2 linked regions of the Homo sapiens genome follow. The main gene of each other region encodes a partner of the protein of the gene in region 2 in a complex. Each region holds a gene or a part of one and is shown on either strand. Other genes may lie near its edges.

The links.
Region 1: the proteins of PIAS2 (region 2) and SUMO1 are in contact, whole or in part, in an NMR structure (PDB 2ASQ), measured with the Homo sapiens proteins. Residues at the interface, in NP_004662.2 of Homo sapiens: Lys466, Val467, Asp468, Val469, Ile470, Asp471, Leu472, Thr473, Ile474, Glu475, Asp479; in NP_001005781.1 of Homo sapiens: Tyr21, Lys23, Val26, Glu33, Ile34, His35, Phe36, Lys37, Val38, Lys39, Thr42, Lys46, Leu47, Ser50, Tyr51, Gln53, Arg54.

Annotation. Positions count from the first base shown.
Region 1 is NC_000002.12:202,214,594-202,221,619, reverse strand, and holds part of SUMO1 (small ubiquitin-related modifier 1 isoform a precursor), read left to right. Parts: intron 1-1,513; coding exon 1,514-1,588; intron 1,589-7,026. UniProt on the Homo sapiens protein: Ubiquitin-like protein that can be covalently attached to proteins as a monomer or a lysine-linked polymer.
Region 2 is NC_000018.10:46,914,490-46,921,833, forward strand, and holds the start of PIAS2 (E3 SUMO-protein ligase PIAS2), read right to left. Parts: upstream 3,019-7,344; 5' UTR 2,857-3,018; coding exon 2,833-2,856; intron 1-2,832. UniProt on the Homo sapiens protein: Functions as an E3-type small ubiquitin-like modifier (SUMO) ligase, stabilizing the interaction between UBE2I and the substrate, and as a SUMO-tethering factor.

The DNA.
Region 1 (7,026 bases), on a different chromosome or scaffold from region 2:
CTTCTAGTTTAATATGTTCTTTTAATTGTTGAATGTTAAAGAATTTTGTATTTTAAGTTACTGGCATGAGATACACAGGTAATGGTTATGGTTATTCTTATCAAATACGGATTAACTGCTTGAAATTATTACGGATAATAAGGTATATATCTAAATAAGTGGGTAATTTGGTGGCCAAACTAAGGTGTAGCACATAGAGAAAAAAAGCTACTTTTTTACCACATTATTCATGAAATTTTCCAAGGTACCCCCTTTACTAAAAATGATTTGCTTATTCTTGAGATACTTCATGGTGAAGTTGTTTTAACTAATTTATTCTGTTAACCTCATTTTCATTTCAGTATCTCTTTATTGGAAATTGTTTTGTAACTGTTTTTGTGATCTTTTTTTTTTTTTTTTTGAAGAGATGAGGTCTTGCTATGTTGTCCAGGCTGGCCTCCAACTCCTGGGCTCTCAAGCAGTCCTAGTGCCACAGCCTCTCAAGTATCTTGTCCTCCTATTTTTGTCTCCTCTTTTAAACTTAAGCATTATGCTTCGGATAGTCTAAAATAATTGATTATATAAAACTGATTCGTTTTGACTCCAGAGTACATTAGGCTAATACTTTCTTATTTGATTTTCCTTTCTAAATAGCCTTGCTTGGCTGGGCACTGTGGCTCACGCCTGTAATCCCAGCACTTTGGGAGGCCGAGGTGGGCAGATCACCTGAGGTCGGGAGTTTGAGACCAGCCTGACCAACATGGAGAAACCCTGTCTCTACTAAAAATACAAAATTAGCCGGGTATGGTGGTGCATGCCTGTAGTCCCAGCTACTCGGGAGTCTGAGGCAGGAGAATTGCTTGAACCTGGGAGGCAGAGGTTGCGGTGAGCTGAGATCGAGCCATTGCACTCCAGCCTGGGCAACAAGAGCGAAACTGTCTCAAAAAAATAATAAATAATAGCCTTGCTTATGCTAATATGATTAATTTACATTTCTTAGTACAGTTTTGTAGTTAAAGTAAACTCCTCATGATAGGCTGTGAGAAGATAATCTTGGATTCAGAAGTTTGTCTAAAAATTCATGGAGGATGAACTTCCTTTGTGCTGGTAAGAGCTGGCTGTAGGGCAGTTGTTTCCAAGTTGTTCCTCTGGCCAGTAGTATCGGTACCACCTGGTAATTTGTTAGAAAGAGATTCTTATCCCTACTACAAATGTGCTGAATAAGAAACTGGGTCTTGGGCCCAGCAGTTTGTTTAACACGTCCTTCAGCTGATTTTGATGCGTGGTAAAGTTTTAGACCATTACTATGGGGTATTATAATAAAAGAGACCCCTTTCTTGATTTCTAGTGAATGGCGTTTGGGACAGTAATTGACTTAGGATTTTTTTTTCTTAATTGACTGGCATGGAAAAGAAATGCTGTTTGTATTCTCAGGTGCAGATTTTGCATCCTGAATGAAAGTAATGGATACTCATAAGTGAGTAATTAAAATAGCATGTAGGAACTTTTATCTTGAAATTTAATTTTCTTTCAGGAGGCAAAACCTTCAACTGAGGACTTGGGGGATAAGAAGGAAGGTGAATATATTAAACTCAAAGTCATTGGACAGGTGAGTTTCATTGTTTTTCTCTTTTGAGTCCCCTTCAATGTGAATACTTTTTCACAGGAAAAAAAATTATTTAAGGCAAATTATTTTAAAATGACTATGTATGCATTTTAATTTACTGTGTATGCATCTGTTAGAGGTAGAAGAGGCCGATACTGTTTTTTAAATTACTCTGCCAGGCAGTTTTAGATCATCTTAATTTTTCCAAATAGGAATGTTTTCTTGGTTAGTGTGCTTCAGGGGCAAATACAGTGAATACTATTAAGTGTTAAGGCTAGGGCCAACCTTAAGTAAAAGGTTTATCAGCCCTTTTCCTGACCCTTTTCTGGCCCCCTATTTCCCTAGACTCTAGTCTGTATCTTTTTTTTTTTTGAGATGGAGTCTTGTTCTGTCACCCAGGCTGGAGTGCAGTGGTGCGATCTCGGCTCACTGCAAGCTCCGCCTGCCGGGTTCACGCCATTCTCCTGCCTCAGCCTCCCAAGTAGCTGGGACTACAGGCGCCCGCCACCATGCCCGGCTAATTTTTTTTGTATTTTTAGTAGAGACGGGGTTTCACTGTGTTAGCCAGGGTGGTCTTGATCTCCTGGCCTCGTGATCCGCCAGCCTCGGCCTCCCAAAGTGCTGGGATTACAGGCGTGAGCCACCGCGCCTGGCTCTAGTCTGTATCTTATTGATTCTGAAATGTTAATTAAGGTTAGCTAACAACCGTTGGAGGAATGAATCTACATAGTTACGTGGGTTTTCTAAAGGACAAAAGACAGAGAATTGGTGGAAGGGTGGACTCGCCCAGGATGGAGTGCAGTGGTATTTCTATTGAAGTGTGACAGTACCATTTCCCTATATTCTCCCAAACATGGGATATTAACAGTCTTTAAATTTTGTTCAAATATGCTAGGTAAAACATTTTTGTTTATTTTTCATTTACCTGATTATTAATAAGGTATAATTTTTTTGGTCTGTTACATTTATATTCTTCTGTTAATTGTGTTCATACCCTTTTCCCATTTTTCTGTGATTATCTTATTTTGAAGACTTTTATTTTTTATTTTCAAAATTTTTTAAATTTAAATTTTATTTTGAAATGGAGTTGTGCTCTTGTTGGCAGGCTGGAGTGCAATGGCGTGATCTTGGCTCACTGCACCCTTCACTCCTGGGTTCAGGTGATTCTCCTGCCTCAGCCTCCCGAGTAGCTGGGACTACAGGTGCCTGCCACGAAGCCTGACTAATTTTTTTAAAAAATATTTTTAGTAGAGACGGGGTTTCCCCATGTTGGCCAGGCTGGTCTCGAACTCCTGACCTCAGGTGATCCCCACCCGTCTCGGCCTCCCAGAGTTCTGGGATTACAGGTGTGAGCCACCATGCCGGCTTTATTTTGAAAACTTTTAAAAGATAAAATTCACATACTATAAAATTCACTATTTTAAAGTATATAATTCAGGGGCTTTAGTATTATTCACAAGTGTGTGCAGCCATCACCACTACTAATTCCAGAACATTTGCATTACCCCAAAAAGACACCCTGTACCCATTAGCAGTCATTCCCCATCCTATTTCCTCCAGCCAGTGACAACCATGATTCTACTTTCTGTCTCTATAGGTTTGCCTTTTGTGGACATTACATATAAATGGAATCATAAGATATATGGCTTTTTTTTTTTTTTTTTTTTTTTGAGGCAAGGGTCTCGCTGTGTCACCCAGGCTGGAGTGCAGTGGCCTGATCTCAACTCACTGCGACCTCAACCTCCTGGGTTCAAGCGACCCTCCTGCCATAGCCTCCTGAGTAGCTGGGATTTCAGGTGTGCACCACCATGCCCAGCTAATTTTTGTATTTTTAGTAGAGATGGGGTTTCGCCATGTTGGCCAGGCTGGTCTCAAACTCCTGACCTCAGATGATCCGCCTACCTCGGCCTCCCACAGTGTTGGGATTACAGGCATGAGCCACCATGCCTAGCTTTGATATGTGACTTTTTATTCTGGTTTGTTTCTTCTTTTCTGCCTTGCTTCCCTGTTCCTCTTCCCCTCCCTCCCCTCCCCCCCTCCCCATCCCCGTCTCCCTCTCCAGGGTTCTCGCTATGTTGCTCAGGCTGGTCTTGAACTCTTGGGCTTAAGTGATTCTCCCTCTTTGGCCTAAAGTTCTGGGATTATAGGTGTGAGCCACTATGCCTGGCCTGGCTTCTTTGTTTTAGCATGTTTTCAAGGTTCATTCATGCTGTAGCATGTATCAGTACTATATTCCTTTTAATGGCTGAATTCTGTTCCATTATATGGGTAGAATATATTTTGTTTTCCATTTATCAGTTGATATTTAGTTTGTCCCCATATTTTGGCTACTATTAATAATGTTGCTGTGAACATTCATGTGTGTTTTTGTATGGACATATGTTTTCAGCTCCCTTGGATATATACCTAGGAGTGGAATTGCTGGGTCTAGTATGCAACTATATGTTTTACTTTTTGAGGAACTGCCAAACTGTTTTCAGCAGTGGCCCTACCATCTTACATTCCTAGCAGCAACATATGAGGGTTTCAGTTTTTCCATATTCTGGTCAACACTTGTAATTATCCGTATTTTTGGTTATAATCCTAGTGGGTGTGAAGTGGTATCTCACTGTGGTTTCAACTTGCTCTTTCCTGATGGCTAATGATGCCAAGCATTTTTTTATGTACTTATTGGCCATTAGTACATCTTCTTTGGAAAAATGAAGTTCTTTAGATCTTTTGCCCATTTTTAAATTGGGTTAGTTGTCTTTTTATTGTTGAGTGGTAATATGTCTTTTATTCTGGGTATTAGACCTTTATCATATATATGATTTGCATGGATTTTCTCCTATCTTTGAGTTGTCTTTTCACTTTCTTGGTTTTATTCTTTGCAGCGTAAAGTTTTTAATTTTGGTAAATTAAGTTCATCTGTTTTTTCTTTTGTTGCTTGTAATTTATCTAAGAAACCATTACCTAATCCAGGGTCACAAAGGTTTACGCTTGTGGTTTAAGAGTTTTAAGGCTGGGCACAATGGCTCACACCTGTAATCTCAGCATTTTGGGAGGCCAAGGTGGGCAGATTGCTTGAGCTCAGGAGCTGGAGACCAGCCTGGGCAACATGGCGAAACCCCATCTCTACAAAAAATATAAAAAATTAGTAGGGCGTGGTGGCACATGCCTGTAGTCCCAGCTACTCAGGAGGCTGAGCAGGGAGAATCACTTGAGCCTGGGAGGTCAAGGCTGCAGTAAGCTGTGATCACGTGACTGTACTCCAGTCTGGGTGACAGAGTGAGACCCTGTCTCAAAAAAAAAAAAAAAAAAGTTTTATGGTTTTATTTATAGTTTTAGCTCTTACATTTAAATCTTTCATCATTTTGAATAATTTTTTATGGGTGTTTGTCCCAGACCATTAGTTGAAAAGACTGTCCTTTTCTCACTGAATTGTTCTGGTATCCTTGTCAAAAAATTGACTATAGATATAAGGGTTTTTTCTTGGCTCTCAATTTTATGCCATTGATCTATCTATATGTCCATATGCCATGGAATGTCTTTTTAAGAATTATTAATTTGTGGGATTTTTAAAAATATTGTCTTCATTTTCCTTGTCTGTTACATGTTATGAATATTTCCTCCAGTATGTCTTAACTTTTGTTTATGGCATCTTTTACTATACAGACGTTTTATGTTTTTATTAAGTCAAATTTATCCACCTCTTTTTTTTATGGTTTCTAGGTTAAAATCATGCTTTGCAATAGGGCATCCCAAGGCCAAAATTAGGGGAAAAAAATTCTCCCTTGAGGGGAAAATATTGAGAATTTTTTTTTTTTTTTTTTTGATGTGGAGCCTTGTCCTGTCATGCAGGCTGGAGTGCAGTGGTACTTCCGGCTCACTGCAACATCCGCCTCCCAGGTTCAAGCACTTCTCCTGCCTCAGCCTCCCGAGTAGTTGGGATTACATGCAACTGTCACCACACCCGGCTAATTTTTTATATTTTTAGTAGAGATAGGGTTTCATCATGTTGGCCAGGCTGGTCTTGAACTCCTGACCTCGTGATCTGCCCGGCTTGACCTCCCAAAGTGTTGGGATTACAGGAGTGAGCCACTGCACCTGGCCAAAAAAATTTTAATGTTAGCTCTTTAATTCATCTGCAAGTGATTTTTTTTTTTTTTTTTTGAGATGGCGTCTCACTCTGTTGCCCAGGCTGGAGTACAGTGGCGAGATCTAGGTTCACTGCAGCCTCCGCGTCCTGGGTTCAAGCGATTCTCCTGCCTCACCCTCCCGAGTAGCTGGGATTACAGGCATGCGCCACCACGCCTGGCTAATTTTTTTGTATTTTTAGTAGAAATGGCGTTCACCATGTTGGTCAGGCTGGTCTCGAACTCCTGAACTCAAATGATCCTCCTGCTTTGGCCTCCCAAAGTGTTGGGATTATAGGCATGAGCCACCATGCCCAGCCTGGAATTGATTTTAATGTATAGCATGAGGTTTGCTGTAGAATTTTATCTGTTTATGAAATGATCTATGTGAAGATAATTTTATTTCTTCATAGTTACAGTCACAAGAAAAATACTGTAAATGTGCAGCTTCTGCAAATACACATTTGTGAATGTGATATGTAGTCATGAAGTTTGGCTTTGAAAGTTTACATTATGCAAGTAACAGTATTTTTTCTGAGGATTGGCTGGCTGATAGTTTGTTTCACAATCTGAGCAGAATAAAATAATTTTTGGTCTCACAAATCAGTTTGACTAACTCAGGTTCTTACTCATTTTACTCATGTGAGAGAAACCAGATTCCATGTGGTGATTTTTTTTTTTTTTTTTTTTTTGAGATGGAGTACTGTTCTGTTTCCCAGGCTGGAGTGCAGTGGCGTGTTCTTGGCTCACTGCAACCTACACCTCCTGGGTTCAAGCAATTCTTCTGCCTCAGCCTCCTGAGTAGCTGGGACTACAGGTGTGTGCCACCATGCCTGGCTAATTTTTGTATTTTTAGTAGAGACGGGGTTTCACTATACTGGCCAGGCTGGTCTTGAACTCCTGACCTTGTGATCCGCCTGCCTTGGTCTCCCAAATTGCTGGGATTACAGGCATGAGCCACTGCGCTCAGCCCCATGTGGTGATTTTTTATGGCAGGAATAAATTTCTCAGTCGCTTATTGTATAAAATTGAATTTTATACAATTAATTATTATCTAATTAACTGCTTTTCTCCTAGGCGACCACCTTCAGTGACACTTCACTTGGGGGGACAGACTTTTTGTTTTGAGTTGCTATTGGGATAAATAAAAGATGCGATAGTTCATCTTTTATTTTGACAATAGAATGGCAAATGAAGGAATGCATTTACTTAGACTTTTACTTATACTGATAATTTTAACACTCAAGACTGATTAACTTTGTTTTACTCGGTTTCTTTTGTAATGGGTATACAGTAACTTTGAGGATGATTACACTGTTTTAAGAA
Region 2 (7,344 bases):
GCAGCAGTCTCCAAAACTGAAATAGTCAGGCGACCCCCTTAACAGTTGCCTAATCGAATAACCAACCCTCCCCCCCCCAACTCCACCCCCGACACACAAGTCTGAAAAGCAAAGGCACCAGGGTCACCAAACCACACTGAGGATTACCTTTCCCAAAATTCCCTATCTCCAGTATAGATGCAGCACTAGCCAGGATATGAACTGCTCTGGTTATACTTGTCCAAAATGAGTAGCCTTGAAGGGTAATGGAAATCCTCTCTGTGGCATATCAGCAGCCAAATATGTGGCATCCAGATCGGCTGACCAATTTCTCTACTGCCAAGAAGTTAGCCAACAAACTAATGCCCAAAATTTTTCCTGGTCCTATAATTTACTTGAGCATCACTCTGACCACCACAATATATTCTGATCCAAGGACCATCATTTTGAGAATCCAAGATTATTTCTTCCCCTTTTCTTTCTTTCTATTCCGTTTTTTAGTCTGTTTTTCTTCCTTTATTATAATGTCACACAAGAAGGATGTTACCAATCATTTAATTTAGGAGCAATCGCAGGATGATGGCTAGAAGCTCCACCTAGACCCCAAGGTACCAGAACAAAGTAGTGTAGCCCGGGCTCTGAAAAGCCCAGACTCTAAAAGCTACATGTCTAAGATTAAAAATCTTAGCTTTTCAAATCTCAAGCTGTGTGATTTAGGTCAGGTTAACCTCTCTGTGCTTCAATTTCTTGAAAAAATTGTGAGAATTAAATAAGTATAGAAAAAATGCTTAGACCAGAACCAGGCATGGAATAACCACTATATTAAAATGGGTATATACCATCATCATCATTACTGTCTGTAATGGGATGTAAGGGCGGGGTACAGTTCATCTTCAAGTGTAGGGTAACATGGGTCTGCACAGAGCAGTTAAGGCAAAGAAAAGCAGATGATGCTTACTGCATGTGCCCAGCCTGCACCCCTCACTCCTCTGAAAATTCTCCCCAGTTAGTCTCTGTTGGGCACGTCATATGAATTGTGGGAGAGGGGCCATCTTCTAAAAATGCAAGAAGTAAAGACAGCTGATTTACAGGAAAAGAGGATGAAGCTGATCCACAAACCAAAACAGAGAGGAAGGCAGAAAGGAAGAGAAAAAAAAGCTTCTTTGGTTTCTATCACTTTCCAGTTGCTGGTTGCACTCCAATCTGAGCACTGACTGCTTTTACTCTGCTCTATAAGAGCGAGTAAATTCTTCGCTTTACATTAAGCTTTGGCCAACAACATTCACAAGAGTCTAATAAAAATCCTGGAAAGTTTTCATTAACAAAAAAAAAAAAAAGAACTTAGAAAACTTGTATACATCTGTTACTACACAAAAATTAAAAATGGCAGGTAAAAATAAATATAACTTCAGAGTTCAGTCTTCTCAACCCATCCTAAATCTAACGCATGAATTTACAGAGGTGAGGTTCAGGGTTCGTTGTTTGAAAAGCTCCACAGGTGTTAAAAGCTCTACAGCTGGGGCTCTGAGCCACTAAAACCCTTAAACTTATCAAGTATGAACACCCTTTACCTACACTTATGGTTCTCTGCATAAACTAGTATGGGGCATAACATGTATTAATATGTGTTTACTGGGAACTTAATAATTATTTTTGAAACAGCAGGAGGGAATATGGCAGGCACTGTGCAAACTCCAACAATCTCCGTTTAGAGCAGAGGATACGTTCTTTTGCTCACGTCCACTAAGCAGGTAACCAGCCAACATCCTTCCCCCATCCCATCTCTTGCGGAAAACAATAAATATACAAAACTGAACCTTTTACCGGATTCCTCTTCCTTATTTGAAAAAGAAATCCTAATATCATAAGTGTTACACAAACGAGTTGCAGTAAATGTAATTTCAAGTTTACACTCATCTCTACCTTGATACATTTAAAAAAAAAAAAAATCAGGGTTTCTGTCCGTAAACATCTCATTTATGTCGCCAGTAATTCAGCGATACACACAAATCCATCTCATTCGTCACACTTAGTTAGGACTTTAAAGGTTATCAGTCTGGGGGGAAAAAGTCTCTTCTGTTCTACCCCCATCACAGCCCTATTCCAGACCTCTGCTATACAAGGGTATCAACAATAAAGTTATGATCTTGTTTTAAGACTGAGAAGAAAAAAATATTTTTCCTCAAGAGTAAAAGGGGTGCACAAACCTCACAACATAGACTTTGCAGATTTCTTACTAAAACACTAAGAAAATATCGAGGTTTAAGGCCGATTATTGAAGGCAGGGATCCCCAAACATTAGGTTCCTCGAAGATGTTAGGAGGCAAGGGTGGGAGAAGGGGCCTTTTCTCGTGACAGACCTGACTAAACGGTAGCATCAGCCATAAGAAGAGGAGAGATTCCTAAACGCAACTTCAGCTTTCAGAAAACAGTCCTCCACCAAGTGAGTAGCATGCAGACTTGTGAATAGCCACAGACACGTACACCCCGGTGAAGGTGCAAGATCAAACGTTGCTTCCCACATCGGCCCTCACTGCGAACCGGGATGTCGGGTCCCCATGTGCCCCTCCTGGAGGGCGCCCCGACCCCCCGCGCCAGGTGTGCGGACCACTGGCAGCACTCAGGAGCCGGCTCGCCGCGGCCCAGGCCCGCCGCCCCCGCGCCGCCCGCGTGCCCTCCGCCGGCCCGCTCCCCTCCCCCGCGCCCTCGGCGCCCGTTCGTCCGCGGGCCGGGGCTCAGGGCTCCGCCAACCGGCCCCAGAGGCACGAGCAGGCGGCGGCCGGCGACGTTGCGGTTTCCCCACCTCCTCTCCCATCCCCTCCCCCGCGGCCTCCGCTCTCCACTCCCGCTTACCCTCAACTCTTCGAAATCCGCCATTTTATACCACCCGCGGGCGCCGCCGCCGCTGCCGCCGCACCCACTCCCGCTGCCGCCAACGACGCTGCCGCCACCACGGCCGCCGCCGCCTCCAGCACCATCCTGCACTGGGCGCCGCTTAAGACGCCGCGGCCGCCGCCGCTACAGCCGGGCCCGTCACGTGAACGGCGCGGGAGCTCCGCCTCCGACGCGCCGAAGCCCCGCCCCTAGCGGTGCCCCCTGCCCACCCGCGCGACCGCCTTCCGCCCGCGCCTTCAGTCCGCGCGGCGACAGCGCCCGCCCGCGCCTGCCCCGGCGTGCTGCCCCGCGGCTTGGCCCCGCTCGGCCCCAGGTCGTGCCTTCCCTCCCCGGCGGAGGCCCCTGCGGACTGCCTAGAGCTGGGTCGCAACTGAGGCGTTATCCGCGGGCCTGGCCTCGGGAAGTGGCGGGGAGGAAGAAGAGGCGGCCGGGACGCGTGACAGGAGCATTCGGGAAGATTCTTACGGTGCCCTTCACGCGGTGCCTATGGACGGAGAAAGCCGCCGCAAATAAAACCATCCCCCAGAGTAGTTGTGGCGGAATAATCTAAATATGGGTGTTGGGTAAGCTATTGTTCCCATCTAATGGTGAGGTTGTGTGACACCTCTTTGAATTGCTAATGTCCTGCAAGTACCAACCTTGCCGAGTTTTTCTGACCTTGAAGGGCACCTGAAGGTCACGGACTGCAGAGTTGGGAGAGTTAGGCGGTGGGGTTGGGGGCGGGGAGAAGTGAAATAAGAGCGCTCAGAAGGGCCATGCTAAAAAGTCGGGGAAATCTGATAGCTAGGAAGGAGTCAAACGCCAAGGCAGAGTAAGTAGATAGAAGGAAGCTTGATGGCCCCCCCGTAATGTGCTGATATAGGATGAAGGAAGATGCTGAGTCAAGATGGCCAGAAAAATCGCTGGACGGTGTCCAGGGTTCAATTTCCTTGAAGAATTGGGTGGAACCCACACACGAGAGGTCTTTAAAACAATGTAACTTTTAAGGCCCTGTTTAATCAGCCTCCTACCTACCGCCTCTTCCCACTACCCCTCGTTTCATCCGCACTGCACTTCCAGGTCTTCCTTCCACTCCCCTGCCCCCGCACCCCGCAAGTTTTGTTTTTTTGAGACGGAGTTTTGCTCTTGTTGCCCAGGCTGGAGTGCAATGGCACGATCTCGGCTCACCGCAATGTCTGCCTCCCGGGTTCAAGCGATTCTCCTACCTCCGCCTCCCGAGTAGCTGCGATTGTATTTTTGGTAGAAACGAGGTTTCTCCAAGTTGGTCAGGCTGGTCTCCAACTCCGGACCTCAGGTGATCCGCCCGCCTCGGCCTCCCAAAGTACTGAGATTACAGGCGTGAGCCACTGCACCCGGCCTCCCCTCAAGTTTTAAGGCTTCTAAATGTTGATCCTTGAACCAAGAATAATTTCCCACTCTCTTCTTTGTTCCTAACTCCTGTTCATCCTTCAGGTTTCACTTTAAGTGTCACTTCCTCAGGAAGACCATCCCTCACCCACATCCCACATTTTAATTCAAATTCCCCTGTTATGACCTCTCCTAGGACCCTGAACTTTTTCTTCCTGAGATGTCTCCATGGTAATTATGTAGGTATTTGTGTAATTGTTTATTTGATATATATGTGTGTGCGTGTATATATATATATGTGTGTGTGTGTGTGTGTGTGTGTTGTGTATATATACACAACACACACACATATTGTTTTGGCCAGGTGCAGTGGCTCATGCCTGTAATCCCAGCACTTTAGGAAGCCGAGGCAGGTGGATCACTTGAGGTCGGGAGTTGCAGACCAGCCAGGCCAACATGGTGAAACCCTGTCTCTACTAAAAATACAAAAATTAGGCCAGGAGCTGTGGCCCACGCTCTAAATTCCAGCACTTTGGGAGGCAGAGGCGGGCGGATCACCTGAGGTTGGGAGTTGGAGGCCAGCCTGACCAACATGGAGAAACCCCGTCTCCACCAAAAATGCAAAATTAGCCAGGCGTGGTGGCGCATTCCTGTAATCCCAGCTACTCCGGAGACTAAGGCAGGAGAATCGCTTGAACCCTGGAGGCGGAGGTTCCAGGGAGCGGAGATAGCGCCATTGCACTCCAGCCTGGGCAACAAAAGCGAAACTCCATCTCAAAAAAAAAAAAATTAGCCGGGTGTGGTGGCACATGCCTGTAATCCCAGCTACTCGTGAGGCTGAGACAGGAAAATTGCTTGAACCCAGGAGGTGGAGGTTGCAGTGAGCTGCGATCGCACCATTGCACTCCAGCCTGGGCAACAGAGTGAGACTTTGTCTCAAAAAATAAAAATTATTATTTTAAAATTTTATGTTAAAAAATTGTAAACCCACTAGACTATAATGGCTGATAAATGCCTAACAAATAGTTGGCCTTGTATTTGTTTAATGAATAAAGGAATGAATGAACAATGTCCAGGTTCTAAATCTGTCTCTCCACCATTAACTTTGTGATCTTCGCTTGGCTTATTCTTACTCTTGATTTATTCTCCGTAGACCTTGATTTACACCTCAGTAGAATTTAACATTGTTTAGTAGGCTTTAAGTGAATGCCACTGTGGGAGGAGTTTTCGGGGAATAGACGAATAGAGTACAATACAGCCCTGCCACAGAGGAGCTTACACCCATAAAGAGGACCAACATAAACACAAAACAGTAAGAAAAGAAAAGCAAAGCCCCACTGAAACTTACGTGCAGTGTTCTTTGTAGTTGCTTCCCAGCATTCATTCTGCCCCTTCCTCAATGTGTAGCAGCTCCTGGATGGGTTGGGTAGGTTTGACTGCAAAGAGTTCTAGGTGCTGCCCTAGACTGGCCTGAGTCATTAAGGACTGTTATGTCATTCTGGCCACAGTATTAGATCACAACTGGGCATATAAATCTGATTAGTACTGAGCATTTATAGGCTTTGCCAAGTAGATCAAGTGTGGACCCGTGCCCTAAGGTAGGCTAATCAGAGGGAAGCCTAGGACATTTATTCAGTGATTAGAGATAAGACTTTCTGGCATGTGGAACACTCGCCATTTTGCTACAGTGAAGAGCCAACCTGAGAACCAACCCTTCTTGTGAGCAGAAAAATCACACACACACAAAATCTCAGCATTGACTTTGATACTCACTCTGCCTCTGTACTGGCCAGTTTTCTTGAGCCAATGCCTTTCTTGTAAGGTTTTAGATTGTTTGAGTTGAGATTTCTATTAGTTGCAATAGAAAGAATTCTGAAATAGGGTGCTACTTTGTCTCACCAGACCAGATTATTAATTTGGCATTTTTTCTAATCTATACTCCCCAATAATCATTCAATATATGTTCAAAGGAATGGCTGAGTGGTAAAGGGTAGAAAGGGCATGTTTCTCTTCACTGTTGTGATCATTTCTGCTCTGGTCTAGATTTATATATCCTCATTAAAAAGAAATCCCTGCACTTACTTGAATCCAACTTCCTTATAACATAGTAATGTGGTATACCCTTAAAGGGGAGTGGAGAAGGAGGGAGGTGCAGTAATCTTATCACTCACAAAAGGCCACATATCAAAGTACCAGTGCCAGCCACATGCTGAACTCTTCTACCAGAGGAATTCTATTAAATATATCCTTTTTCTTTATTACATTTCCAATGGTAAAATGTTTTAGTGCTCTTTATGGATTGAATCTCCAGGCAATTACCTGACTAGGCTACCGTCTTAAAATGGCTCCAAATTAGAAGATTCATTATAAGTACTGTGATTAAAGTGTCCTAAGTTTTTTTGTTTGTTTGTTTTTTGTTTCTGTTTTTGCTTTTTGGGACGGAGTCTCGCTCTGTTGCCCAGTCTGGAGTGCAGTGGCACGATCTCGGCTCACTGCAACCTCTGCCCCCCCGAATTTAAGCAATTCTCTGCCTCAGCCTCCCAAGTAGCTGGGATTACAGGCACCCGCCACCATGCCCAGCTAATTTTTGTACTTTTAGTAGAGATGGGGTTTCACCGTCTTGGTCAGGCTAGTCTTGAACTCCTGACCTCGTGATCCACCTGCCTTGGCCTCCCAAAGTGCTGGGATTACAGGCATGAGCTACTGCGCCTGGCATAAAGTGTCATAAGATTTTAATACACGAAGTCAAAAATCTCAGGAGTAGCTTTTCCATTTACTAGCTGTGTAACTTTAGCAAAGTCTCAACTTAATTTTTCTAATCTGGAAAAGAAAAATGACTACACCTATCTCAGGATGAGATACCTGATCTGATAGATCAGGTGTATGAGTGTACTCTGTAAATTTATAAAGTGAAAGATGGTAAATTTTTTGTATCTAAACAGCTAAGCTGATTTTGAATCTAAACAGCTGATAAACACATAACAAAAAAAAAAAAGCACTTCATTAAGAAACATAATTAAGAACCATATGATATATCCTAGTAATTTTAGCAAAGAGCATTCCAACCTGGTTGGACCAACCATGTAACCTTGAGTTTAGTTCCAAGCACCTGTCTTCTTAATC